Homo sapiens: one gene and its partners. The protein of the gene in region 4 interacts with the protein of the main gene of each other region in a pairwise test. Each region holds a gene or a part of one and is shown on either strand. Other genes may lie near its edges.

Region 1 (7,024 bases), on a different chromosome or scaffold from region 4:
CTCTAAATAAAAACAAATTAGCCGGGTGTGGCAGCATGTGCCTGTAGTGCCAACTACTTGGGAGGCTGAGGTGGGAGAATCACTTAAGCCCAGGAAGTCATGCCACTGCACTCCTGCCTGGGTGACAGAGAGTGGGGTCTCAGAAATAAAAGAAAAAGAATCCCAGCACTTTGGGAGGCCGAGGCAGGTGGAGCACTTGAAGTCAGGAGTTCGAGACCAGCCTGGCCAACATAGTGAAACCTCATCTCTACTAAAAATACAAAAACTAGTTAGGCATGGTGGCGAGTGCCTGTAATCCCAGCTACTTGGGAGGTTGAGGCACGAGAATCGCTTGAACCTGGGAGGCGGAGGTTGCAGTGAGACGAGATCATGCCACTGCACTCCAGCCTGGTTGACAGAATGAGACTCTGTCTCAAAAAAAAAAGAAAACTGAGTAGCTGGGATTACAGGCTCCCACAATCATGCCTGGCTAATTGTTGTCCTTTTAGTAGAGACAGGGTTTCACCCTGTTGGCCTGACTGGTCTCAAACTCCTGACCGCAAGTGATCCTCCTGCCTCAGCCTCCCAAAGTGCTGGAATTACAGGCATGAGCCACCACACCCGGGCAGAAATAAAGTTTTTTAAATGGCCAAGACTAAATTGTAATACCTAGGAATGCACATTTGGGTAAAAAAAAAAAAGCTACTTAAACACAAAGAATAACTGTGAAAAGATAAAGTCCTTCCTTTCAAACGTTTTGCCAAAATAGAAAAATGTAAACATTTCAGAAATGCAGAACGTGTTTATTATAAAAGCTGAGGTAGGGGTTGCATATACTGGGGGGCAGGAGGGAACTATTCCTGGGATGAGCACATAGACTCTTGGGGTGGCTGTCAAAGCTCTGTTTCCCAAACCTTGGTGGCTATTGCGTGGATGTTTGCCTTAGAATAATTCATTAAGTCACACATGTGTGTGATTTTCTGTATCCAAGTTTCATTTAAAATAAAAATATTTTAAAAGCTGGGGGCTAGCAAGGGTGTGTACACGCAAAAATACCTAGTATCTGTTAGAAGTGCTTAACCTGATACCACAGGGGTTACCTGCAGAGGAGGAAGCCTTGAGGTTGCGACTTGAAGGAAGAGTCTCAGTTAACCAGGTGAAGGTGAGGGAAAGGAAGACAGTGGTCCAGAGGCAGCTGCTTGTGCAGAGGCAAAGGCCAGTGAGAGCAGATGCGTAAAGAAGAGGGGCAGCAGGAGGCGGAGGGTACAGTGAGCCGAGATCACACCACTGCACTCCACCCTGACCCTGTCTCAAAAAAAAGGGGCAAGAGACAGAGCTGGAAAGGCCTGGGTGCTGGGGAGCCACAGAAGCTTTCATGAAGATTTGGGCTCTGTCCTCAGAGCAACAGGAAGCCCACTGTGTACATTATCCCGAGCAACAGGCATTACATTACTCTGGTCCCAGCGTGGAGAATGAGTTAGCGGGGGATGGGAGTGGACGCAGGGAGGCCAGTCAGGAGGCTGCCACAGTTGTCCAGTCTAGATATGACCTTAGCCTGAACCAGGTTGGTGGCAGCAGGGAATGGAAAGAAAAGGACAGATTTGGGAAATATTTAGGCAGTAGAATTGACAGGACTTGGTGAGGGGACAAAGGTGATGGCTAGGATTGTGCCTTGGGCAGCTAGGTAGCTAGCAGTGTATTATCTGAGGTAGGGAGGCCAATGGAAGGGTGGGTTAAAAGAAAAGGGCACATCTCCCTTGAGCTGCCTGAGAGGCAGCCAAGTAGAGGTTTCTAGCAGGCAGCTGGGTGGAGCAATCTGGGCTAGAGCTATGGATGTGGTGGTTGTCTGCAAAGGGGTGGAACTGGGAGCCATGGGCCTGGATGAGCTTGCTGAGGCACACAGTTGAGTAGAGAACCTAGAGCTGAGCCCTGGGTACCCACATTTAAGGGAGAGGCAGAGGAGGTGGAGCTGATGAAAGACCAAGAGCGCCAGGCAGCTGGGAGATACCAGGAGATGTGGAGTCACAGAGGCCAAGGAATCAAGAGGATAAGACAGCACAGTTGGCAGGTATAGCGCTGCTGAGAGATCCCAAAATACAAGGTCAGAAAGTGCCTGCAGGACTCAGTGGCACAGAAGTCACAGGAGACTCTTGTGGGAACCAGCCTTGTGGTCACCTGAGGTTTGGAGTTAGAGACCAGCCTGGCCAACATGGCGAAACCCCATGTCTACTAAAAATACAAAAATTAGCCAGGTGTGGTGGCAGGTGCCTATAATCCCAGCTACTCAGGAGGCTGAAGAGAGTCAAGGTTGTGAAACAGTATCATGGAGAGGAGGAGAGGATGTTGGGAGTTAAGAAAGTGGAAATAGGCCGGGCACAGTGGCTCACACCTATAATCCCAGCACTTTGGGAGGCCAAGGTGGGCGATCAGGAGAATCCCTTGAACCCGGGAGGTGGAGGTTGCGGTGAGCCGAGATCACGCCACTGCACTCCAGCCTGGGTGACAAGAGCAAAACTCTGTCTCAAAAAAGAAAAAAAAATAAATAAAAAAAGTCGTGAGAGACTGCATGGAACAGCAAGTCAGGAAAGTAAAGTCCTATGCCAGCAACCAGTGATGATAAAAACATGACCAGTAATGTTATATGACACATGGCCCCAGAAATGAATGATTCCATTGGTCCCCAGGAATGGATTGGAAGTTTCCTCCTTCCCCAGCTGCTGTTGAACAATAATGCGAAGTCCCTGGTGTCTGTGATACAACCTCAGGGCCGCTAGTGACTAGAGAAGGGACTGAGATATTCTTTTCTGTAACATAGAAGCCTTGTTTCCTGCTGTATAATTAGAGAGTTCATTCAGTGCTTTCAGAATTCTTTCATATCTCATTTTAATCCACAGAAGATTGGAAATTTTGTTCTTATTTAATAGATACGTAGCTGAGGGAAGTAACAACGTGTTCACAGTCACCCCACAAATTAAAGAGCAAGTCAGAGAATGACATAGACTCGTTGTTTGGTCTGATGGTGGTTCCGTCTCAAAATCGGCTGGACAAGCACAGTGTTCCATGGCTCCATGGCTGGCTGTTCTGTGACCGTAGGCAGATTCCTTAACCACCCAATGCCTCCATTTTTTCCTCTGTTACATCCAAGCCTTTCCTTTTGCCACCTTCTCTTTCTGCTGTAGGCCTGGGTTGCCAACTATGAGAGACCCCGAATGAACGCCAACTCCCTCCTGGCCAGCCCCACAGGCCTCAGCCCCTACCTGCGCTTTGGTTGTCTCTCCTGCCGCCTCTTCTACTACCGCCTGTGGGACCTGTATAAAAAGGTAAGGGGGACATACCTGCCCACATTGCACCTAAGGCCTGCAGCCAGGCCTTTTGGGCTTGTCAGTCACCCTAAAAAAGGCACTGGTGGGTGGGGGTTGGGCTATGGCCCCTGGAAGGGCCTAAGTGTGTGCAGATAGTCCGGAGGAGGAGAGAAGACTCAATATCCAAGAGGGCAGAGCCAAGCACAGAGTGAACTGCCCACCAGAATGAAGCCCAGACCATCATGTAGAGCAGAAGGACAGGCAGAAAAGCAGGCCTCAGGTGTGACCCTAGAGGTGGCATATCCTCTGGCAGCTGGTGGACAGGGGCGAGGTCCCCAGGGTGAGAGGCATGGAGAGGGTGAGGCTGGAGCCAGTCTGAAGTGGAAGAGCATAGCTGCCCGCTCTGGAGCTGTGTCCACAGCATTCAAAAGGGGAGTCCAGGAACAGCAGTTGCCCATCAGTGATGGAGGGAGTGGTGTGGAGGGGCTGCACACAGGGCTGTGCTATACAGACAAGAAGCAAATAAGCCTGTGTTAACTGTCCCCAGAAGGAGAGAGGGCAACACAGTCAGCATTCAGAGGGATCACCTCATCTTGTGCCTATGTTTTTTGTTTCTGTTGTTTATTTAAGAGACAAAGTCTAGCTGTGTTACCCAGGCTAGAGTGTAGTGTGGCCTGATCACAGCTCACTGAAACCTCAGACTCCTGGGCTCAAGCAATCCCTCTGCCTCAGCCTCTCAAGTAGAGCTAATTTTTTACATTCTTTGTAGAGATAGGGTCTTGCTATGTTGCCCAGGCTGGTCTCGAACTCCTGGGCACAAGCAATTGTCCTGCCTTGGCCTCCCACAGTGCTGGGATTACAGCCGTGAGCCACCATGCCTAGCCGTTGTGTCTACATTTGTTTTTTTGTTTGTTTTTGAGACAGGATCTCATTCTGTCACCCAGGCTGGAGTACAGTGGTATGATCACAGCTCACTGCAGCCACAACCTTTCAGGCTCAGGTGATCCTCCTATCTCAGCCTCCCCAGCAGTTGGGACTATAGGTGCATGCCACCACACCTGGCTAATTTTTTGTATTTTTTTGTAGAAACTGGGTTTTTCCATGTTGCCCAGGCTGATCTCAAACTCCTGGGCTCAGGCCATCCACCCACCTCAGCCTCTCAAAGTGACAGATGCTAGCCACCACACCTGGCTGTATCTAGGTTTTTAAATGTTATCTCCTCATCCTTGCCATTATTGAGATTTTGTGGCATGGGATAGCTTTGCCAGTTTGGTGAGTAATCTTGTGACTTTAGGGAAGTCATTATTTGCTTGGAGGTCTGATTTCTTAATTACCTTATGGCCCCAGATCCAGGCTGTGTGTATAATTTATTCAACCAAAATCTAGACTGAGCATTTTTCATGTGTGCTGATAGGAAAATTCCTTTTGACTTTCTAGAAGGTGGAGCCAAACAGGGAACTCTTGAGGACAAGGAACATGACCAGTCTTGGGAAGTTTGAATCCTAGTGCAGAGTCCTGTGGTGAGGCCCCTTCCCACTGCCTGGCCCTCTGTAGCTTTCTTCTTGCTCAGAGCAGTGGCACAGTGCAGGCAGGGCCTGGGTGTTTCACATGCAGGCATGCTGTGCCACTTCTAGGGGATAGTCCCTCCACATCTGGCAGCTGAGCCACTAGGTCTTTGGAGGGCCCAGATTCCTTTGTAGAAGAGACCTGAGAGGCACCATGCTAAGAGCTGGGCGAGTGTTTGTATCCATGTGCCACCCCTACCTCTCAGGTGAAGCGGAACAGCACACCTCCCCTCTCCCTATTTGGGCAACTCCTATGGCGAGAGTTCTTCTACACGGCAGCTACCAACAACCCCAGGTTTGACCGCATGGAGGGGAACCCCATCTGCATCCAGATCCCCTGGGACCGCAATCCTGAGGCCCTGGCCAAGTGGGCTGAGGGCAAGACAGGCTTCCCTTGGATTGATGCCATCATGACCCAACTGAGGCAGGAGGGCTGGATCCACCACCTGGCCCGGCATGCCGTGGCCTGCTTCCTGACCCGCGGGGACCTCTGGGTCAGCTGGGAGAGCGGGGTCCGGGTGAGTGCTCTCTCAACGAAAAGCTGGCCTGTACCCTCTGGTCAGGCCCGTCAAAGGGCAGCCCCCTTCTGGGCTGAGGGATGAGGTGGGATTTCTGGGTCCAGGAGATCCCCTCCAGATCCTCTGTGGCTTGCCTTCAATGGAAGGGTTTTGGCTCCTGGGGGCACTGTGGTGACTTGGGAAAAAACATGGCTGCATGTCCCCAAGGAGGCTGATCATCCCCTCCCCTATCTAGGTATTTGATGAGCTGCTCCTGGATGCAGATTTCAGCGTGAACGCAGGCAGCTGGATGTGGCTGTCCTGCAGTGCTTTCTTCCAGCAGTTCTTCCACTGCTACTGCCCTGTGGGCTTTGGCCGTCGCACGGACCCCAGTGGGGACTACATCAGGTGAGGATACAGACCAGGCTCTCTGGCCTCTGACCACTGTGGCCTCCTACTAGGATGGGATACCCTGGGCCTTTTGAAGGAGGGTCTGGGTATGCTGATGGGTCATCTGGTGTATCTTATTTCAGGCGATACCTGCCCAAATTGAAAGCGTTCCCCTCTCGATACATCTATGAGCCCTGGAATGCCCCAGAGTCAATTCAGAAGGCAGCCAAGTGCATCATTGGTGTGGACTACCCACGGCCCATCGTCAACCATGCCGAGACCAGCCGGCTTAACATTGAACGAATGAAGCAGATTTACCAGCAGCTTTCGCGCTACCGGGGACTCTGTAAGGAGACAAACACCTAGCTCACTGAAGGGAAGGACAGCACCTACAGGCTCAGGGGGCCAGATGGGGATGTCCAGATACTTGCAAAGGGAGACTGAGTGCTGTCTTTCAGGTTGACACCTTCGCTGGGTATGGGACACTGCAGGCTGGGATGAACTGGGCCTTCCTGAGTAGTTGTGGGGCTGTGGGAGGAAATGGAACCTCAGTGTCTTGCTCCTACCCTCCCCACCCCCACTTGCTTCATCCTGCCCTGTAGCCCTCTGCAATCCTGCGAGACGGCACTCTGATTACTCCTCGCCTCTCTCCCAGGTCTACTGGCATCTGTCCCTTCCTGTGTGGAAGACCTCAGTCACCCTGTGGCAGAGCCCAGCTCGAGCCAGGCTGGCAGCATGAGCAGTGCAGGTGAGCAGCAGCAACCAACCTCCTGTGGCCTCCTGTGGCCTGTGCCACCACTTCAGTCATTCAGGACTGAGGCCAGAAGGAGGCCTTGCCCAGTGGAGCTTATATTCCACCTGGGGCAGTCAGATAGTAAAGAAACCAAGTTGGATCATTTCAGATAACAAGTGCTTTGGAGGAAAAGAAAGTTGAGTATCTTGACAGAGGGACTGGGAAAGAAGGATTTCTTCTGTGTCACTTGAGATTGGAGCAGTCAGGGAACACCTCTGTTAAGCAGAGACCCACGTCATGAGCAGGAGCCAGCCCTGCCACACACTGAGAAAATAACATTCCAGACAAAGGGAGTAGCAAGAAAAAGCTCACAAACAGTACCGAGCTTAGTCCATTCAAGGAACCGAAGGGAGGTCAGTGTAGCGGCATGTCCCAGTGAGGAGCTGGAATGAGATGAGGACAAGATACAGCATGAGCAGCATGTGGCAGGCCTGATGTCCGAGACGAGGACTAGGATTCAGCCTTCAGTGCACTGAAGGATGGTCAGTAGGGCAGGGC
Region 2 (7,123 bases), on a different chromosome or scaffold from region 4:
GCGTGAGCCACAGCGCCAGGCCTCTAACTTTACTTCACTCTTACAGAGAAAACTTAATTGGCTATTTTTTATGGCTTTGACAAACTGAAAACAAAGGAAGAAAATGAAAGCAAATATTACTGGAAAAGGAAGTAAAAGGAGACTTTAATAGTAAAAATTCTTAAAATCCCAATGCAATTTACTTTAAAATCCGGTTTACTTGAAAATATCATCGCTATCCATTACCACTGCCACTTCATAGGAGCCATAGAAAAATTTTAAGTACAGGAGTCATTTATAATTGCCAATGGGTTCACTTTGCCCACTGTCCAGATACTGCTAATTCATCAAGACAGGGGATTTGCAATAAAGAGTTTAATTCACATGGAGCCAGCTGAAAGGGAGAGTGGAGTTTTAGTACTCAGTCTCTCTGGATCTGAGGCTAGGGGTTTTCAAGGATAGACTGGCAGGCCAGGGAACGGGTGTTGCTGACTGGTTGGGGATGCAATCATAGGGGTGCGGAAAATGATCCTCCTGAGTGCTCAGCCCGTTTGTGGGCGGGGCCACAGGACCAGTCAGAAATGCAAAAACCTGAAAAGGCTAATCTTAGGTTCTACAAGAGAGATGTTTTCTGCAGGAGTAATTGGGGAAGTTGCAACTCTTAGGACCGCCAGAATAATGGCTGGTAATCATTTACATCTACACCTTAGCAGAATTCAGGCTCCTCTCATCCTCCAAACCTGGTGGTCTTTCATTAGCTTTATAAAGGTGGTTTAATTTTGGGAAAGGGCTATTATCATTTAAACTATAAACTAAATGTCTCCCAAAGTTAGCTTGGCCCAAGCCCGGGAATGGGCAGTCTAGAGGTTAAAGGCAAAATGATGGTCAGTTAGAACGGTCTTTCACTGTCATAATTTTCTGTTAAAATTTTTTCCAAAGGCCAAAATTGTTTGTGATCATACACAAGATCACATTTATCTAATTATCTTCTGCTTAAAATAGGCAAGAAGCAACAGCGGCTGCCACATTTTTTTCTCTCTCTCACAAAACTGGAATTCTTCTCGTGGAAAAGAAAGAGTGGGCACCAATTAAGTATTAACAAAATACAGATGAACTGTTTACTACCTTCAATAATCTTTATATGCCATTGATAAGCAAAAGACTACTGGGATACTGTGGGACTGTAACCCATAGAGTTTCTTAGATGCTATTGGAGAGATAAAAGGATTGGCACCGAGGATTCAAGAGAACAATGGAATCAACACTGAATGGGAATCAAATAATCTGTGAAGTCCTGACTGCCACTCCCCACACTAGCTCCAGTGTTGATCACAGTAAGAGCTGTCACCACTTTATTTTGAGATGGAAATAATCTCGCTTTTCTCACTCTGTCACCCAGGCTGAAGTGCAGTGGCGTGATCTTGGCTCACTGCAACCTCCACCTCCCTGGTTCAAGCAATTCCCCTGCCTCAGCCTCCCAACTCGCTGGGATTACAGGCACACACCACCACGCCCAGCTTTTTTTTTTTTTTTTTTAGTTTCACCATGTTGGCCAGACTGGTCTCGAACTCCTGACCTCAGCCAATCCGCCCAGCTTGACCTCTCAAAGTGCTGGGATTACAGGCGTGAGCCACCACGCCCGGCACACCACTTTAAATTACATGAATCTATTACAGCACTCATGACTGTCATTATTTGTTAATATATTTTTCTTGCTAGACTGCATACTCATTAAGGGGAGAAACTATCTTCATTTCTAGCTGCTAGCACAATGGCCTCAGTTCTTCATCTCTACAATGAGATTAGTTTCACAGCTACCTCATAAATAATCCAGAGAATCCATGTAAAGTGCTTAAACCAGTGCCAGGCCATGCAGTAAGTGCTCAATAAATGGCAGCTGCTACCATTATTTAATTGGTGCCCAATAATTACTAATTGAGTGCAGTTCAAGGTTTGGGGTAAAAATGCCTTTTTCTATAGCTCAGTATCTAAATCTGTGAATACTCTGGAATTTGGAAATGCACTAGAAGAATAATATTCTCGTCCCTTCAGCCCAGGGAAAAGGCAGCAGAATGAATAAAGAGGAAGCACATTCCAACATACAGGTTTAAAGTCTTGTTTTTTTAAAGTAAGAGTGGATTACATTATTCAAGGAAGACATCTACTCAAACACAGGAGGTAACTAACAAAAAATTCTACCAACTTAAATCTTTTTAGGATATACATTTAAACTTCAAGAGCACCATTAACACTACAATGTCTAATACTCTAGAGGGCAAACTCTCCGTAGGCCATTTTCTCCAGACGTAAAATTAAGGTACACCTACATAAATGTCCTCTTAGCAATGTTCACAGAAGTCTTTGAAAGGTGAAACTCAAAGGTAGGGCTCAGGGAGGCGGAAAAAACAAGGGAACAGAGTGGGCTTAATGGTGGTGGGTGCAGGGAATCTAGGGGTCCTGGTTCTCGTCGGAATTCCATCACTTAGAAACTGTGTAACCTTGGACATGTCACCTCCTCTTTCAGGGCCTTACTGGGAAAATGAGGAAACGAGACAAGGTATTTTCTTCCCTTCTGTGTGACATTCTGATTCTGCGTTTAGAAGAGGAGGGAATGCACCCGGTAGAGGGCCTGGGGGCGGGAGAGGCACACGATTTTAAAACAGCTCCTCCGTTCTGGCTCTACAGCCAGTCTCTACAAGCTTCCGTACCGCAGAGACTCAAGAACTGGGTCTCTGAGCCTGAGAGGAAGCTCCAGAGAGTCCGCCCGGATTAGGCCACAGAAGCGCCGAGCTCCCGCACAGACAGCCTCAGGGCTCACCCCCAACTACGGCGACAGGGCGGACCCGCCGGCTCCATCAGATGCACTACCCACCCGCCTCGAGAGAGGGTCTGCAAGGCGGCGACCGCTCCGCTGGCTAAGCCCAGCGGCACACCTATTCGGAGCTCCAGGCTCGTCACCTACCGCCTGCGCAGCCCGGCGGCAACAGCCGCAGCTCCCCAGCCCCGCCTGGCCGTCGCCGCCATCTTAGTCCGGAGTGCCTAAGGGTCTCCCTGACAGAACCACGAAAGATCTGCGCAGCCGCAGGCTGGCCGGTAGCTGGGCGGGCACTGGGAAGAGCCCACCCTACCGGCTGCGGGCGGTCCTGCTGCGGATAAGTGCGGTGGCCTACGCGCCGAGGTTTGCAGGCTACTGCGTCACCCTGACCAAGAGAGGCCGGGGAACCTTTCCCGTTTGCGCCAACGCTTGGTTAATTCACGCAGCACTGTGAACGCATGCGTGTTTCCGTACTTTGTTTTCCCTGTTGGCTAGGTTTTTAGCTGGTGCTGGTGCTGCCTTGCGAATGCTGTTTCCAGCCCCTAAACCTGACCCATTCCCTCCTCTAGGACCCTACTCAGCCTCCAGGCCCAGCTCAGTGACTGCCCCCAAAGACTCCCTGGAGCATTCCTTCTAAAAGGTTCTCGCATTTCTCCTGCCCTTTTCCCATGGGTCTGATGTGGAACTGTGTCTAACCCTTCCTCATAGCTGTGCTTGTCAGCTGCCACTTGGTCATCTTGGACCAACCCGCACAGAGGATGTATCTGGTACAGTGCTGCCCTTCTCCGATTAACATGAGACTTGACTAGTTTCCAGGGCAGAGTGCCAAAGCCCATTACCTATTCTTCCAGAACCTTCCTGGAGTATTCCGTTTTCTCTAGGACAACGGTTCTCAAAGTGCGGACTAGGGGCCAAAAAAAAGCAGGAGAACACGTTAGAAATGCACGTTAGAACATGTTAGAAATCCTGGGCCCCACTTTATACTTACTGAGGCACAATCTCTGTAGGTGGGGACTAGAAATCTTTGTTACTTGCTTTTTTTTTTTTTCTTTTTCCAGAGACAGGGTCTATCTCTGTTGCCCAGGCTGGAGAGCAGGAGTGCGATCATAGCTCACCAAAACCAACTCCTGGGCTCAAGTGATTCATCCTCCAGCCTCAGCCTCCCAAAGCACTGGGATTACAGGTGTGAGCCACGGTGCCTGGCTTTTATTAGCAGTAGTAGTAGTAGTATTTTTGTAGAGAAGAGGTCTCCCTGTGTTGCCTGGGCTGCTCTTGAACTCTGCTGGCCTCAAGTGATCCCTCTCACCTGGGCCTCCAAAAGCTCTTAGGTTACCTCACCCTGCCTAGTAGTGTTTTAACAAACCCTTCCCAGGATTCTGATGCCAGCTAAAATTTGAGAATCACTGTTCTGGAAGACAGAGGACTGGTTTCCAGAATGGAAACAGCACACCTGTTGTTGAACAGGTTGAGGCCACACCCAAGACAACCCTAGTAATTTCTATGGCCCACAGACACATCTAAGAGGGTGGGTGGGTTTCAGGCCTGCAGCTCGCCCGGGCCCGCACACTGAGTGGGCTGTGCCTCCTACGAGTTTGGTTCATTCCCAATGCTGCGTACTTGCTTTTAACTACTAGTGATCTTCCCCCATCCAACCCCCCACCCAGTGATCTTCCCCCATCCAACCCCCCACCCACCCCCCCACACACACCCATTCTAGACCGCAAGGCAGTCCAAGGCTCTGTTTTTGACCCTCAATCAAAAATAAAATGTGGCTCTTCCACCTTGGAACAATCGTTCTTCTCAGACTTCAATTTTTCCCTCTCTGATGGATTCCTTATCATAAGAAAAATCCTGCCTTGCCCCAAATCCTCTTCCACACTCTTTTCTTCCCTTCAGAACCAAGTGGCTTAAAAAAATGGTCTGCACTCTTAGTCTCTAGTTTTTCACTTCCCACTCCTCAAACCCCTGAAACGAGGCTTCTATGTCCCACCATTCTTAGGGCCTGCTCTAGTCAAACCACCCACAGCCTCTGTGCTACTGTGTCCGGAATTGGTGGGTTCTTGGTCTCGCTAACTTCAAGAATGAAGCCATGGACCCTTGTGGTGAGTGTTACAGTTCTTAAAGATGGTGTGTCCAGAGTCTGTTCCTTCAGATGGTCAGATGTGTCCGGAGTTTGTTTCTTCTGGTGGGTTCGTGGTCTCACTGACTTCAGGAGTGAAGCTGCAGACCTTTGCGATGGGTGTTACAGTTCATAAAGACAGCACGGGCCCAAAGAGTGAGCCACATCAAGATTTACTACAAAGAGCAAAAGAACAAAGCTTTCATAACATGGAAGGGGACCCAAGCAGGTTGCCACTGCTGCCTCAGGCACCCTGCTTTTATTCCCTTATCTGACCCCACCCACATCCTGCTGATTGGCCCATTTTACAGAGAGCTGATTGGTCCATTTTACAGAGTACTGATTGGTTTGTTTTACAGAGAGCTGATTGGTCCGTTTTGACAGGGTGCTGATTGGTGCGTTTACAATCCCTGAGCTAGACATAGAGTGCTGATTGGTGTATTTACAATCCTCTAGCTAGAGTAAAAGTTCTCCAAGTCCCCACTAGGTTAGCTAGACACAGAGCACTGATTGGTGCATTTACAAACCTTGAGCTAGACACAGGGTGCTGATTGGTGTATTTACAATCCTTTAGCCAGACATAAAAGTTCTCCAAGTTCCCACCAGATTAGCTAGATACAGAGTGCTGATTGGTGCATCCATAAACCCCAAGCTAGACACAGAGTGCTGATTGATACATATACAATCCTCTGGCTAGACATAAAAGTTCTCCAAGTCCCCACCTGACTCAGGAGCCCAGCTGGCTTCGCCTAGTGGATCCCATGCCAGGGCCATGAGCAGAGCTGCCTGCCAGTCCTGCACCACAAGCCTGCACTAGAAAAAGTATCAGGCCCAGAGAGGCATTTAAAATGTAGCAGCAGTAATATCTCATTCGCCCTTGAGCTAAGTAACAACTTCTTGAAGTCACTTGCTATGTATACACTAGACTAATGTCAAGAAGCCGTTAACATGCCATATACCCTATAGTTCAACAGTGCATGGCCAGTCACTAACAATGTTATTTCTGTAAACCAATGAGAATACCTGCTGAGCATGGTGGCTCACACCTGTAATCCCAACACTCTGGGAGGCCAAGGTGGGCAAATTGCTTGAGCCCAGGAGTTTGAGACCATGCTGGGAAACATGGAGGGTTTACAAGCATGAGCCACTAACCCTGGCAGAATAAAAACATGTTATCTGAGGAAGGTGAGCCCCTTTAAATTATGAGGCCCATTGACTAGCCTAAAAAAGAAAAGTATCAGGGCCGGGTGCTGTGGCTCACGCCTCTAATCCCAGCACTTGGGAGTCTCTACAAACAAACCATGTCTCCACAAAAAATTAGCCAGATGTCATGGCATATGCCTGTAGTGCCAGCTATTTGGGAGGCTGAGATGAGAGAATCACCTGAGCCTGGGAAGTTGAGGCTGCAATGAGCCGTGATTGCACCACTGCACTCCAGCCTGGGTGACAGCATGAGACCCTGTCTCAAGAAAAAAAAAAAGTCAAATGAGAATACCTGATGAGCAACTTTTGTAATTGTTCCTCTCCCCTGATTTGTCTCTTTTTCTTTAAAAAGTTGAGCCTCTCCTTTTTTCCCAGAGCACTCTCCAAGGCAACCTGCAATATGGCCAGGGCTACAGTCCTCAACCTTGGCCCAAATAAATTCTCTATATTAATTTTGCCTCAGCTTCTTTCTTTTAGGTCAATATTTGCCTACAGTACTGTTTAATTAGGTTTCCTGTTACTCACAGATGATCAAAATCCTGTGTGGAGTAATATTAAGATGAACAAAACAATTCCTGGTCTCAGGGAGCTCCTGGAGAAGATTTGTAAATCAACAAAGGCACTAAGGGAATAGAACGCTATGTGGGGGAGAGGAAGCATTGTCAAATGTGAAATGGTGTTTAACTTTCTTTGGGTTATATTTATATGAATGAGTTATTAATGTGTGTTTCAAAATTGTGTGAGATTCCTGTAATTCTGGTATGTCTTAGTATATGACATCAGTAATAATTATGATTATTATGTTACATCGTTGTGTGCCACAGAAATAACCAAATTTCCTTGTCAATTGTGTCTTTAACCATGGCTGTTCTTTTTTTTTTTTTTTTAATACTTTAAGTTTTAGGGTACATGTGCACAATGTGCAGGTTAGTTACATATGTATACATGTGCCATGCTGGTGTGCTGCACCCACTAACTCGTCATCTAGCATTAGGTTAACCATGGCT
Region 3 (7,024 bases), on a different chromosome or scaffold from region 4:
CCTATCTGAAAGCTTCTCTAGCAGTTTACAATTCTATGATATCATTAGTTATTTCCTAGATTATCATGTAATCTGAGAAGAAAATTTGAAAATGGGATAATACAGTAGTAGCATCACTTAAAGTACATATTTCATGGAAAGAATTGAAACGAGTGGTAAGGAAGGTTTAATTATAATGCCATAAAAGAAAAATATAAATTTGATTTACTAAAATGCTTGATGTTTGAACAGGGTATTTAAAGGATCCACGATACCAGGAAGTGGACAGGTAAGTCGGGTTCACTCTTGCCTAGTTTTGAATTACATTCTTGGAACTAGTTTATGAATTACCTGAATTTAGTTTCACAAATCTTATTCCCAACAGACGATTTTCAGGAGTTCGCCGAGATGTGTTTTTAAATGGGGTAAGCATTTCATTTTATCTATTTAATGTGGATAAAATCAGGCTCTGATTTATTTTGCAGTTCTGTGATAATTTTTAATTATATTGACATTATCATCTTTTATTTTAGTCCTACAATGATTATGTGAGGGAATTTCATAACATGGGACCACCACCACCTTGGCAAGGAATGGTTTGTATTATTCTATTTTTATAAGTTACATAACTTAATTTGCAGTTCTAGTATTTCAGGTGCTTACTCGGAATATGATTGTTACAGTTACTCATTAAAGAGACTTAAACTGGCCAGGCGCCGTGGCTCACACCTGCAGTCCCAGCACTTTGGGAGGCTGAGGCGGCTAGATCACCTGAGGTGAAGAGTTCGAGACCAGCCTGGCCAACACGGTGAAACTGAAACCTTGTCTCTACTAAAAATACAAAAAACATTAGCTGGGTGTGGTGGCGTGTGCCTGTACTCCCAGCTACTCGGGGAGGCTGAGGCAGGAGAATTGCTTCAACCCAGGAGGCAGAGGTTACAGTGAGCCGAGATTGCGCCACTGCACTCCAGCCTGGGCAACAGAGGGAGACTCCATCTCAAAAAGACTTAAAATACAGATTTTTGATGATAAATAATTGTATGCTGTCTTTCAAACTAAAGACTAAAAGCTCATTTGTGTTAATAGTACAGGCTTGAGAACTGTAATAGTGTATTATGGTAGTAATTAGTAGTGCAAAGTCCGCTTGGGTTCAGATATATTTCTTTTTCTTCCCAACTCTGTGACTTTGGGTTAATTTCTTAATACAACTCTTAGTTTTCCTCATCTGTAAAATTCCATGGGCATTCACTGATGCTTTGTCTTATCAAATATAATATTTAGTACTTACTCTGTGCAAGGCACTGTGCTTGTTCTGATTATATCATGGTGAATGAAATTGACATCATGACTGTCCTGGTATAGCTTAAAATTTAATGTAGTAGTGTCATTTTCATTGTCAAGATAAATTTACAAAGTACATGTTAAGTTTAGCATAGTGCCTGATCTAATACTCACTAAATTTTCTGTGTAAAATAAGATTAATTAAACCCTGATTATTCCTGCTTTTTAATTATTTCCTTTAAGAAAACTGAATTGTCTTAGAGTATATTTTAAGATATTGAAGATAGCTGAAGCATTAATTTTCAAGAAATAAAAACCTGGAAGTTGAAGTAGCTTCTACTGTTTTCTTACATTTTAATTTATGTCTTTTTTTAAATGCAATATGTTATATGGCCTCTTCATCTGACTTTTGTTTCACTTTTAAGGTATACAGTTTTATACTATTATATGCAGATGATTATGAGACTTTTCCCCTTTAGATTCTAGGAAATTTTAAAAATTTAATAATATATGATCTTGATAGTAACTATGAAAGTAATCTTTAATTTACCCTTTATTCATTTTTTAAATGGCATTTAAAAGTTAATTTGCTCCTGGACTTTTTTTTTGAGAGACAGGGTCTCATTCGGTCTCCCAGGCTGGAATGCAGTGGTGTGATGATAGCTCTGTGCAGCCTTGAACTCCTGGGCACAAGTGGTCCTGCTGCCTCAGCTTCCTGAGTAGGTGGGACTACAGGCACATGCCACTGTGCCTGGCTAATTTTTTTATAGAGACAAGGTCTCACTCTGTTACCCAAGCTGGTCTCCAACTCCTGGCTTAAGGGATTCTTTTCCCTCAGCCTCCCAAAGCACTGGGATATGGGCGTGAGCCACCACACCAGGCCTGTTGATGTTTCTAAGAACAGATACATACAAAGTGGTTAACCAGTTTACCAACTGCAGAACTAGGATGCCTGATGCCGTATGCCTGCTTCACCACTTTAACAGTAGTGTGACTATAAGCAGGTTACTTAACTCCTTGTTGCTTCAGTTTTCCCTTTTGTAAACTGGGAACAATAGTATCTATCTCATAAGGTTGCTGTGAGAATTAAATGAGACTAGTAAAGTGCTTAGAACAATGCCTGGCTCACAGTAAGCACCATGTAAGTGTTTGCTATTTCCATTGTTATTTATATGATAGGAGTAGAAAAGCATAAACATGTTAAATCTTAGAAGATGTGTAATTTTCGACAAAAAGCATATTTTGAAACACCTTAATGCCATCAAAGTAAATGTCTAGTACAGATTCACTTGTTTGGGATTGGTGTTTTGGATGAAGGGTTCTAAGAATCGCTTGTTTACAAGGGTGTTGGTAGATTCTTAATGTAAATGGTTTTCCTTTTTTAGCCCCCTTACCCAGGAATGGAACAACCTCCACACCATCCTTACTATCAGCACCATGCTCCACCTCCTCAAGCTCATCCCCCTTACTCAGGACATCATCCAGTACCACATGAAGCAAGATACAGAGATAAACGAGTAGTAAGTGCACAAGGAGGCAAAGGTGTGAGGGAACTACTTAGAATTCTGTAGGTAACTTAAATATGGGGAGACCAGAGTATGATGATTGACGGACCATTGCATATTCTTACTGCAGACTGTTTTGGAATAATTGTTTGTTTTTATTAAAAATGCCTGATTATGCCCCTTTGGATTATATAGATAGAATATATTTCTTTTACTGATCAAATCACAAACTGCTTAAGGCAAACGCCTACAAATAGAACTCCTTTTAGGTAGTACCTAGGCTATGTTCTTTCCATATTGAGATCTTAATTATGCTATGTAATTAATATTGTTAATAGATATTTCTGAACTTTTTGTGTATTCTTACTCAATTTTTCTAGGATAGATCGTGTATATTAAGTTAGCTGATAAGCTGTAATCTCATTTAGTCATTTGTTTTTATTTCTACCAAATGTTAAAGCTAGTAACTGATAAATTGTTTTACCTCTGGTTATTGTGATGTTAGCAAAGAATAACCAGATGTTATGATATGTAGCAGACATGTCCTTTATTCATTGATTCTGTTAATTATTTGATAAGATTGATGTGAAAGCTTTTTTTGATGGCTTCAAAACAGGACCAGTGAAAAAAAGACTCTAGTTTTAGTTTGAGTTTTCTGGGTTTTTAACTAGTGGGGCTGAGTTTATTAAATGCTTCCCCACCCCCCCCAATAGTACTTTTATTTATAAAGCAGAATTGTCTTCTGGCAAGTGTTGGAAGCATAATTCATATGCATATAAGTTTGATAGCCTTAGAAAGGTAGTTTTGTTGTTAAACTAAGTAGGATATGCAAGTTAGAATTTTTTTCCACTCCCTACTTAGGTTGATGAGTCTGTATGGGGCCAAATAAACATCTTTTTATTTTCCCACTTAAGATGAAGAGTGGGCCTATTTGTGAGAATCAGAGCAGCTTTCTAGCCTATCTTTGAGACATTTTTTTGTGTTGTCAGTAATTTCCTTATAAAGATAGTAATTTTCTCTAAATCAAATCTTATCATGACTTCTAACATTCTGTAAAATAATTTGAGAGTACTAGTTAACTAATTCACAAACTTTAAATTAGTAGTTTATTTTCAGTTAAGCACACAAGAAAGAAATATACAGTCTATCTATAATGAAATCTTAGTTGACTAGATGGGTTGTGGTGTCTTAAAAATTCCCATAACTGATCACATGGCTTTTAAAATAGGAAGTCTGAGATTTTTTTGTTTTCCTCAACTATATCCTTTTTAACAAGTTCTATTTTATGGATCTTTATGTAGTGATTTTTTGGTTAGTATACATATTCTCTACTTACATAATCACATATATAAAAGGTAATGTGGGACTGTGTTTTCAAATCTTATTTCAGCTAAGTTTTGAGAGAAGACCAAAATCAGTAAGGTAAGCTGAGAACTAAGAGTAGAAAGTTTAAACTAGAGCAGGGGCCAAGTTTAGGAGCAGCCACAACTTTTCTTGCACATCAACTTAGTTGTAACAATTTAGTTTGAAAGAAAATCTGGAACATAATACTCAGTTTGTAAAATTGAAGTTGGTAGAATTGGAGGAAAAATGTAGAGCTAGCCTGTGCCAGAAAAACATTGATGACATTTAGCATAATTGGCAGTATATATGGATAATAGTTGAAGGTCATCACTAGTTAATATCTTTGGCCTAAATCTTACTGAAGGGATCAGATGGAAAAGTCATTAAAGTTAAGTGGAAAACTGCATAAAGAGATTTGAATAATCTGTTGTAGATGTCTAATGAGGCATCATCCTTTTTCTAAACCATGTCAGCATATTACCTTCTGTGAATTAATTTATTATTGCATTTCTTTGGATTGTTCTCTCCGCCGATTATAATACAGAGACTTTTCTTTTTTTATATTTTAAAATTGTTTATATAAATTTTTTTTTCAAATCAGGGATCCACTTAACACTATTTGCCTTTTTGACATACCTAACACATTTCTTTCCTTTTCTAGCATGATTATGATATGAGGGTGGATGATTTCCTTCGTCGCACACAAGCTGTTGTCAGTGGCCGGAGAAGTAGACCCCGTGAAAGAGACCGGGAACGAGAGCGAGACCGCCCTAGAGATAACAGACGAGACAGAGAGCGAGATAGAGGACGTGATAGAGAAAGAGAAAGAGAGCGATTATGTGATCGAGACAGAGACCGAGGGGAGAGAGGTCGATATAGAAGATAATGGGCTTTTGGAAGCACTGATTGTTTAAAGATACAAAAAATCTTGTATTTTTTTTTTGTGTGTGTTTACAAGTAGTAAATTTATTTTCAGCTGTCTGCCTATGAAGTTCATTGTGTAGAAGGATTTATTATGACCCCCTTTGTTCCAAGCATGCAGTATCATAAGAACTGGAAAAACTCAAATCCGCCAAAAATCCACAGCTGACAGTTGAATTGACACTTTTATTGGGGCAGAATGGAACAGTCCAAGAATGTAGATACTGATTCTTTCTCCATAAATGTTCTTATAGTGTGTTCATCCTAGAGTTATTTTTTTGTTTGTTTTTTTCCTTTTTGGATCTTGATTGATAACTGCCATGATATTTTGCTTTGATGTGTTTCTACATGTAGTTGCACACGGTTCAGTAAAAATAATGCTGCTATCGAGTATGCAAATATTGAAGTATGATGGTTTGACTGTATGGCAGTGTTGTAGCAGCCTCTTGTTTTTTTCCCCATTGCCTCTTTTTTTAAAAAACTTATAAAGTCACTTTTTATTTTTCCTCAGTCTTCAATGACGAGAGCAATATTAAGAAGACATTGCTATCTAATTTTTAATCTTTTTAAATGAAAAATTCCTATGTTCAGTAGCGTGGTTGATGCTATTGTTTAGCCTTCCCCTCCAAATTGTATACATTGGCTTGGAATGTTCACAACTTGCGTGCGTGGCAGCGGAAGACGATTCCCATATTCTACATTGCTACTGTTTTGTATAAAATAAATTGGTAAAGATTGACGGTTATCTTTTGTATCTTTTTCTTATCCAATTGCAGGTTTGTTTTATTATGCAATAATGGACATAAAAGCATGCTTTTTGTTCAGGAATTTTAGGAACCCCATTTGCTTTTTTTGAGGCACACTTTAGCAGAAATGATTGACCTAGGCCTGTTGCATTAAAAGCTTACTTCTATTTCTAACATAAGATACACAGAGTTATGTTAATAATTTGGTTAAGTATTTATACACCTGATAACATTTTGAGTCTACTCTGATCACAGAATCGTTTATTTAGGTTTTCTATTTGTTGTTTTAGTCTTCTGTAAGTGAACGACTTTGTACATGCTTTCTACTTTACTTCATAAATGGACTTTTAACCCTCTTGTATTAGTTCTGTATTTTAAGTTAACTGTCCAGTTCTCCCAGTGGTAACCAACTATAACATAGAAATAGAGCCGCTCAAGAAAACAGTTTATGAAATAATTTTTTTGAATTTTTTCTTGAGTTACACCTGGAGTTTTGGCCTTTGGAATTTGGCCTTTATAAACATTAGGAATATTTGAATGTTTGATTTTTTTATAGTATCAACAGTTGTACTGTGTACCAGATCACATAGTACAGTTTTACATTTAATCTATATTGGCCTGAAAAGAACAACACAGGCACTTTACTCTTAAAGGATATAATAAACTATAGTTATACTGCATTCATATTCATACCAGCATGTAGTATCTTTCCCTGCATTCACAGAAGTTTTATTTACAATGACAAAACTAAAGCCTGAGGATTTGTTTTAAATCTGCATTGTGGTAGAGAGGAAAAAGTACTTTTAAGGAAACCTGGGTTCTAGTTTTGTCATTGTCTTTAATTAAACCGGTTAGTGATACATGGTAAGTCACTTCATTGGCATTTTGTGTATTCATCAGTAAGCTAGACAAGATGATAGCTACAGTTTAAGAATTTCTGTAACCATTATACAAAACTGGTAGGTAATATTAAAGGTATTTTCCTGAAATAATAGGAATAAATACTGAGCACTTTGTATGCAATAGAGACTTTGTGCTTTTATATACAGACTCATTTAAATGGGCTCAGAGAGGCTAGTAAACTTGCCCAAGATTAGAAAGGTAGTAATTGATGGGCCAAGATTTTACCCATGTTTTTATTTGGTGTTTCTAAACCACCTCATCACTTTTGAAAAAACAGTATATAAATTAATAAATGTTTTGGAGATGGAGTCTGTCGCCCAGGTGGAGGGCAGTGGCATGATCTTG
Region 4 (7,800 bases):
AAGTGGGAAGAGAGTGTGCTATTCCAGGGACAGGGAGGCCCAGGCCTGAGAGTCCAGTTGCCTTCTGGATCCCGTTTACCTCGCAGATTATCCAAACTGGACTCGTGATTTTCCCCAGCTGTGCCGCGCCTCCCCAGCGGTCTCACTGAATCCACCCATGGGCTATGTCAGAAATCTGGGAGTTATCCTCAGCTCCTCCCTTTCCCTTCTGAAGCCATACCTACTTCTTGCCCTCAAATCTCTGTGACCTGACTTCTGGTAATGTTTCCATTCTCACCATCTCATTCTTCTCCACACTTATCATGAAGTTCATTTATTCCAGACTACTTTAGGTTGAGTCCTAAAAGTCAGCCTGCTAGTTCATGCCTCCATGCTTTTGCAGGTGCTATTCCCTCTGTCTTAAGAGTCATTCATGCCTTCTCTCTTTTCCTTGTTGTGAACTCTTTTTCCTCCAATTTAAAGCTTTCCCCCACCTGTACGCATGGAGATTGGCAAGCCTCCCTTCTCTAGACGACAGCATTTCTTGTATTTGCCTCTTCATCATATATTCCACAAGTGTTTGTTAATCACCTACTATGAGCAAGGCCTTCTGCATTTCCTAGGTTGGATTTCCACTGTGCTGTGTTTGTTTGCTCATCTCCCTCACTGGTCAGGAAATGTCACTCATTTGTTAACCCCCAGTGCTGAGCACAGTGCCTGGCACACAACAGGCATCCCATTACTATTTCTGAAAGGAGTGGAAAAGCAGGCACAGAGAGAAGAGAAAGCCTGATATCCTAAATATACAGTCTTTCTTCCCATGCCTGTCTGTGTTTGCAGTCAATAAGTAGAAAGTCTTTCGAAGAATAACCTGGGCCTGGAAAAGGAGAGAAACCATGGCCCTAACGAGTTAGGTTGAAAGGCTGCCTGGCTCCTATAATCTGACAGTGGAAGTTTGCTCAGTTCTGTGCTGATGGCTTCCCACAAGTAATTGGTTCCTCCGAAAGGAAAAGAACCCACCTAACCCCTCTCTCTCAGAGGAATTTTCCTCTCCCACAGCCCTTTCCAGATTTCCATCCCTGAGCTTCTGTACTTTTTGATATAAGCAATAACAACACCCACAACAAACCAATAGCTGGGCTTCGGAGATCAGCAGGGCTGACAAGGGGACTTCAGCCCCCATCTTTGAACTTAGAGTGAGAACACTCTTTGGAACACTTTGTTCCAAAGAGCTGAAGTGATGGAACTCCCACTCGTTCCTGTGGACAGCTCATCCGTCCTTTACAAGACAGTGCGCGGGAGGGAAGCGTGGGTTAGAGTGTCAGAGGAATAGCTCCTGGAAGGCCAAATTAGCCCAGGGATGTGGTGAGTCGGAATAGAAGAAGCTGTTGCTAGGCCACCAGCATGTACCCCCACTCCTCCTCTCAGTGCTGCACTGCCTGCTGGGGAAAAGCTGTGACTTCCTCAAGCAGACACGCCTGAACCCAGGCCCAGGCAGGGCAGGGTTCAGACTGACTGCTTCTGACTTGTGAGAGCACAGCATAGGCAAATCCCCTTTGAATGTCATTTCTTCCTTTGTAATCTGGATAACAATAGTTGCATCACAGTTGTCTGGAGACTGAAAGATTTTTAAAAAGAGTTAAGGTGTATATGGAAAGCATTTAGCACAGCACCTAGCACATAATAGGCATTCAGTAAAAGTTAGCTGTTTATTCATTGTTTCAGCGCTTACTTACTCAGCACCTGCTAAGTCTGAGTACTGTTCTAGGTATCAGCAGTGAAGGAAAGAAGACTTGGTCCCCAAATGTACTTTCTTTGGGGGAAGAGCTGGATAAATAGGCTTTGTGACTCTGTGTGCTGTGTTAGATGGTGGGAGGCACTGGAGAGAAAGAGCAGGACGGAGGGTCATGTCAGGAGGTTCAGAAGCCTTGCTGGCTGGGTGGGGTGACATTTGAGGAAAGGCCTAATGGGGTGGGCACGGCCATTGCAGAGCCTCTCAGGTGGGAGTTGGTGTTGTGTTTAGAGGACATCTGCCAGTGAGAAGCCAGTTGTGCAGAGAGGGAGTAAGGAGGAGTAGTGGGGAGGAAGCTGGAGAAGTGAGAGGGGCCAGATCCTGGAGGGCCTGGAGGTCATGGTGAGGACTTTGGCATTTACTGTAGTGAGATGGGAGCCACTGGGGGATTTGTAGCAGCAGAGTGCCAAGGTCCAAGGGTTATTTTGACAGGCCTCCTCTGGCTGATGTTTGGAGGATGGGCTACAGGGCAGGAGTGGGAGCAGGAGCCCAGGTGGGAAGTGATGGTGGTGGAATTGTCATGAGCTTGGGCCACTGTACGTGAAGCTGCCTGTCCAGTGCTCGCCCAGCCCATACCAGGCTCGTTTTCTGCCCCATTTTCTGAGACCCTGCTGAGGAGGGCATGCACTGGCTCCTGTGTCCAGTATGTCCTTCCATTCTCCTGACTTTGTGGGCTATTTTCAGTCTCCAGATGAAGAAACCAGTTCTTAGAAAGGTGAAGCCCCTGGCGCAGTTCCCCAGCAGGTGTTTCAGTGCTGTGGCAGGAAGGTTTTTTGATAGAAACAGCCTCAGGCCAGAGAAGTCGGCCTGAGCTGTGGATTCCTTGGGAGAAATGGGCTTTTTGCCTGCCTGCAGCCTCTGGTTTCGGCTGGAATTGGCCTTTCAAGGAGCAAAGTGTGGATCTCATCTCCTTGAGCACAGTCATGGGCAGTCAGAAGGCATCGGGGGCCCTCATGATGTCTGGGTGAAGAAAATCACTCAGCCCTTAATCAAACTTGGTCCAGGGCTGGGATCAGAAGAAGAAACCCCACTTCACACTTGACTGCTTGGAGTGAAGCACTTCGAAAGGAAGCTGCCTGGGAAGTCCCAGAAGGGAAGGGGCAGGGAGGGAAGGGGACAGGGTGAGAGCAGGTCTCACTCATCCCAATCCCAGCCAGGATTGGGTCAGGGCCCCCAGCGCTTACCTGCAGGCAAGGTGCTGCTCCACGACCTTCTCCAGCTGCTGCCGCTGCTGAATCTGTTTCCCTCCCTGAAACGTAGCCCTGTCTCTCAGCTGGCTTCCTGATCTGGGAAGGGTGGTGCCTGTCCCCTGTTCAGCTGACTCACCTTGGACTGGGATGGGCACAGGTGAGGGCTGTGGCTGGGTAAACAAGGCAGGTTGCCAGCCCAGAGGAGGCCTTTGGCCTTAGTCTGGATTTGGAGGTGGGATTAAGGCCCTCACAGCTGCTGTTCAGACGGTTATGAACCAAGACTTCTTGGCCTTTTCTTAAATAGCTCTAAATTTGGGTTGGACACCTAGTCCTGCTGATCGAGGCAGTTGGCTAGAGGGCGGTTTGTGATAGGTATCTAGGGGTCTAGGCCAGGATATTAAAAAGTGGTCATATCCTGTGACCCAGCATTTCTTCTAGGAATTTGTTACAGTGGAGTCACAGGGCCCATCCATCACTGCTGCTTCTAGTAAGGAAAATGTAGAAATCCCAAATGCCCATCTCTGTGGTCTGCTTGAATAAATCATTGTCTGTGGAAGATCACAGAGCTATTAAAGTCACTTAAGGAAGAAGGTATGAGGAAACATTTCTGAGATTCTAGTGAGATGTTGAAAAATCAATATTGTGAATCTCTTCTTGCATTTTGTTTTCATTTTTTGTAAAGTGGATGTGCGTTGAAAGCAGTCTAGGAGGACATACGCTAAAATGCTGAGTATCTCTGAATGGCAGCATTGAGGGTGAGGTTTTCAGTTTGTACTTTTGTGTGTTCCAAGGTGGTTTTTTTTTTTTTAAGTTAGCTTTTGCTCTGAATGCTCATGACTTTTGTAAGGGGGAAGCAATTAAGTTTGATTATTTTAATGGGAATTTAGAGTGGTTGTCTCTTGGGAGCAGACCTAAGGAGCTGTGTGCTGAGGTGGAGATTTTTTTTTTTATGGCACATTTTTGGTGTCTTAAATTTTGAAAAGTTTAAATGTACTACTTATTCCAAAAATAATTATATAAATTTGAACAGAAAAGGAGGAAGAATTTAGTTTAGATCCTGGTGGGTTTGGTTGGGTGAGGGTGCCTGTCGCACTGGGTGCCTGGGGAGGGACGAGGGACTCGTGTGCTGGGCAGTCCCATGAGGATTGACGCTGTACACACTCAGGGTGTGTCAGTATCTGGGCTGCTTCCTGGGCCAGGCAGGCCTACGTCACAGTTCCCATGACCCACCTGGCAGAGTTGCACTAGCCTTGGGTGTCAGATCTTGTGCCTGCCAATGAAGAGCTTACAGCCCAGAGTCCCACACAGGAAACACACAATAGGAATAATAACAAGAAAGACATTTGCCACTAATTCAGCACTTACTCCCAGAGAGCACAGAGATTCTACCCCTGGCACTTTAAAGGCATTATCTCAATGGCTTCTCATGCCATCCCTGCAGAGTAGGTGTGACTCACACCATTCCTCCAGGTGGGGACACTGAGGCACAGAGGCAAAGTTTCTCTCTCAAGTTAGCTGGAAAGTGGGCCAAGTTCATGTCTTCTCTTCTATGGGACATACTGTTTCAGAAAGCTGAGGTGTGGGGCAACCTCAGAGTAAGCTGTGTGGGCCTGAAGCTGAGGTAACGTGGGTGATGGACCCACCTTAGGTCAGGTGTCCAAGGCCAAAGCAAAGTGGAAAATAGAGATCCTAACTAAACCAAGCCACTCCTCCCCCACCTCACTTCATTCAGTCATGACCTGAAAGGGCCTTTATAGAAGAGGGAGGAGGAAGCAGGCCCTTCCAGGTAAGGGGCTTGCCTGTGGTCCCAGCATGTCAGCATGGAGCCCAGGTCCCCTAACTCCCACCTATTTAATACCTACAGGGACTCTCTTTCTATTCCCTCTTTGGATAGTTGCCACCCATCACTGACTTCCAGCCACCTGGAAATATCTTTCATTGGGCATGCCCTTGCTCGAACTCTTCAGTGGCTCCCTCCTGCTTCAGGGTCTGGGCTAAACTCCCAGGGCTGACATGGAGACCTCCACAGCCCACTCCCTTTATTACCTCCTCAGCACTCCCCCAGCACCTCTGCCTCAGCTGGACTGGGAGCCCCACCATTCCTGCCCCACTGCACACCCACTTCCTACCTGCCCTGACTCCATACCTTTGCCTGTCCTGCTGCTGCCCCTGGAACACCTTCTCCTGCCCCCACCCACCTAGCCACATCCACCACTGAGCTCCTCCAGGAAGCCTCTGGGATCCCCCACATCCATGTGGCCTCTCCCGCCTCTGACTCTGGATCAGACGCTCCTGTTCCATTCTTTAATAATCATCATCTTGTACTCATGTGTACCTTTTAGGCTACTAGTTAGACCCTAAGTTCCCTGAGGGCAGGGCCAAGTTATTAGCTCTACAGTGGTCATTCTTTTGAGACAGCATTTCGCTCTGTCACCCAGGCCATAGTGCTGTGGTGCAATCATGGTTCACTGCAGCCTCCACCTCCCAGGCTCAAAGGATTCTTCCACCTCAGCCTCCCTATTAGCTGGGACGACAGGTTCACACTGCCACACCTGGCTAATTTTTTTATTTTCTGTAGAGACAGGGTTTTGCCATGTTGCCCAGACTGGTCTCAAACTCCTGGGCTCAAGCAGTCTGCCTGCCTGAGCCTCCCAAAGTGCTGGGATTACAGGTGTGAGACCCCACACCCAGCCAGTTACTCTTTTCAAAATAAGGAGTGGAACTGTGCTCTGACCAGACAATATTTCTGCTTTGTTATATATTTGTATGAACAAGTCTAAAACTTTGGGTGGCCAGTAAACAGCACACACTCAGAAACTCCCTGGTAGCACCCATGGCACCCTGAGTAATCAACCACTAATGTCCTTCCTGCTGGGCCCAGAGGCCTCTCCGGATCCTCTCGTCATAATGCTGCAGGCAGCTACCGTCACCTAGAGTTGGCTCATGAGGTGAAGTCTCCATGCCATCTGGAATGGGTGCTCCATGATGGCAGGGGCTTGTCTTAACCCTGAGGCCTAGTACTATGCCTGGCACATAGCAGGCTCACAGTAAATTTTTTTTTTTTTTTTGAGATATGGTCTTGCTCTGTCTGCCAGGCTCAAGTGATCCTCCTGTCTCAGCCTCCTACGATCCTCCTGCCTCAGCCTCCCAAGATCCTCCTGCCTCAGCCTCCCACAATCCTCCTGCCTCAGCCTCCTGAATAGCTGGGACCACAGGCGTATGCCACCACAGCTGGTTAATTTTTGTATTTTCTGTAGAGATGGGGTTTTGCCATGTTGCCTAGGCTGGTTTTGAACTCCTGGGCTCAAGGGATGTATCCACCTTGGCCTCCCAAAGTACTGAGATTACAGGCGTGAGCCACCACACCTGGCCTCAGTAAATATTGACTGAGTGAATAAATGCCCCTCCTAGAAAAGTCAATCACAGTTAGAAACTTAAATGGCTGACCCTTATTTAAAAGATGGGTTGGGCTGGGGCATCCGATCTGAGTCCCAGCTCTGTGATGTTGCACATGTTACTAAACCTCTCTGAGCTGTAGTTTCCACACCTACCTTCTTTATAGACTTATCCTGAAGACTAAATGAGGTAACCATGTGAAGTACCTAGGACACAGCTGGCATTTAGTAAATGTTAGTTTCCTACTTTCTCATGGCTACATGTCACAGAAACAGTCATCTGATTGGAGTGAAAATAGAGATGCTCTTCCCAGAAGAAGAGAGAATGTCGGCTGGGCAGAGAAGGAGCTGCTCTACACTCCAGCCCTCTGCATGGAATCTGGGTAGTGCAGCAAGACCCTGGCTTATGTCATCACAGCTTTGTTCCTACTGCTGAATTGAAATAATAACAGGAAGCGTAGCATTTATTGAGCTCCTGCACACTGGGTGCTCTGCTGGGCACTGGGCATACACTGATCTCATCTGTTCACCATAATTCCCAGCTTCAGAGTGAAGCACTTTGCCCAAGGCAACACACCCCAAGAGTGGTAAGGCCAGGCCTTGGCTCTGAACCTCTAGGAGTCTCCTACCCTAGTGCAGCTGAGTCACAGATTTCTCTTTAAGAAACCCACAAAGAAGTCCTTAGGTGGCAAAAATTTGATCACATGGCCACATAGAGCTGCATGGGAGACTGGGAAATGGAGGCAGTCTATTGTTAGCAGGTTCTGTGCCAGCCTCTACTATAGCATGCTGTGAAGCCCTGCCCTTTCTGGACCTCAGTCTCCGTATTTGGCCAGGGAAGAGTTTGGATGGATTTTCTCTGAGGTTTGCCCTAACGGTACTAAGGCCCCACAAAGGGCCAACTCTATTGCCACTTCCAGTCCCTCCTGTGGCGTGAACACCAAAGATGTCCACTATGAGCATTTGGTCTCCAAACACAATGTCCTTCATGCTATTTCTGAGCTCCATCTTGGTTTTGCTTTTTGGAGATGTGTGTGAGTTAAGGTAGGCCAGGTTATGCTGCAGCAACAAACAACCCTGAAATCTTGGTGGCTCCTAATAGGAAGTGTCATTCTCATGCACGCTACTACCCGTCAAGGGCTGGCAGGGTCCCCATGTCTCCTTACTCCAGGACTGGGGGTGATGGAGCAGCTGCCATCTCAAAGGCCGTCAGAAGCCACGGCAGAGGGAAAGAGATCTCTATCTGGCAATTAAGTGCTCCAGCCCAAATGACAGATGTCACTTCTCACACCTTGTTGGCCAGGTTACCCCACCTCCCAATCACAAGGGAACAGGGAGCTGCCATCCCACCACATGCCTGGAAGGCAAAGAGTAGGAAATATAGGAGGATGACATTAATAACAACCTCAGGCCTCTGTTCCAGAGTGTCTGCCAGCCAGCTCTG

What was found.
Region 1: the proteins of SDCBP2 (region 4) and CRY2 interact in binary tests that used the Homo sapiens proteins (3 or more experiments, as listed by UniProt).
Region 2: the proteins of SDCBP2 (region 4) and NFU1 interact in binary tests that used the Homo sapiens proteins (3 or more experiments, as listed by UniProt).
Region 3: the proteins of SDCBP2 (region 4) and YTHDC1 interact in binary tests that used the Homo sapiens proteins (3 or more experiments, as listed by UniProt).

Annotation. Positions count from the first base shown.
Region 1 is NC_000011.10:45,864,454-45,871,477, forward strand, and holds part of CRY2 (cryptochrome-2), read left to right. Parts: intron 1-3,158; coding exon 3,159-3,299; intron 3,300-5,052; coding exon 5,053-5,364; intron 5,365-5,599; coding exon 5,600-5,751; intron 5,752-5,876; coding exon 5,877-6,079; intron 6,080-6,388; coding exon 6,389-6,481; intron 6,482-7,024. UniProt on the Homo sapiens protein: Transcriptional repressor which forms a core component of the circadian clock.
Region 2 is NC_000002.12:69,434,420-69,441,542, forward strand, and holds the start of NFU1 (NFU1 iron-sulfur cluster scaffold homolog, mitochondrial), read right to left. Parts: upstream 3,017-7,123; 5' UTR 3,004-3,016; coding exon 2,942-3,003; exon of another isoform or gene 2,852-2,941; intron 1-2,851. UniProt on the Homo sapiens protein: Iron-sulfur cluster scaffold protein which can assemble [4Fe-4S] clusters and deliver them to target proteins.
Region 3 is NC_000004.12:68,312,070-68,319,093, reverse strand, and holds part of YTHDC1 (YTH domain-containing protein 1), read left to right. Parts: intron 1-231; coding exon 232-268; intron 269-340; coding exon of another isoform or gene 341-364; coding exon 365-404; intron 405-512; coding exon 513-575; intron 576-2,645; coding exon 2,646-2,780; intron 2,781-4,770; coding exon 4,771-4,995; 3' UTR 4,996-7,024. UniProt on the Homo sapiens protein: Regulator of alternative splicing that specifically recognizes and binds N6-methyladenosine (m6A)-containing RNAs.
Region 4 is NC_000020.11:1,326,130-1,333,929, forward strand, and holds the start of SDCBP2 (syntenin-2), read right to left. Parts: upstream 3,011-7,800; 5' UTR 2,956-3,010; intron 1-2,955.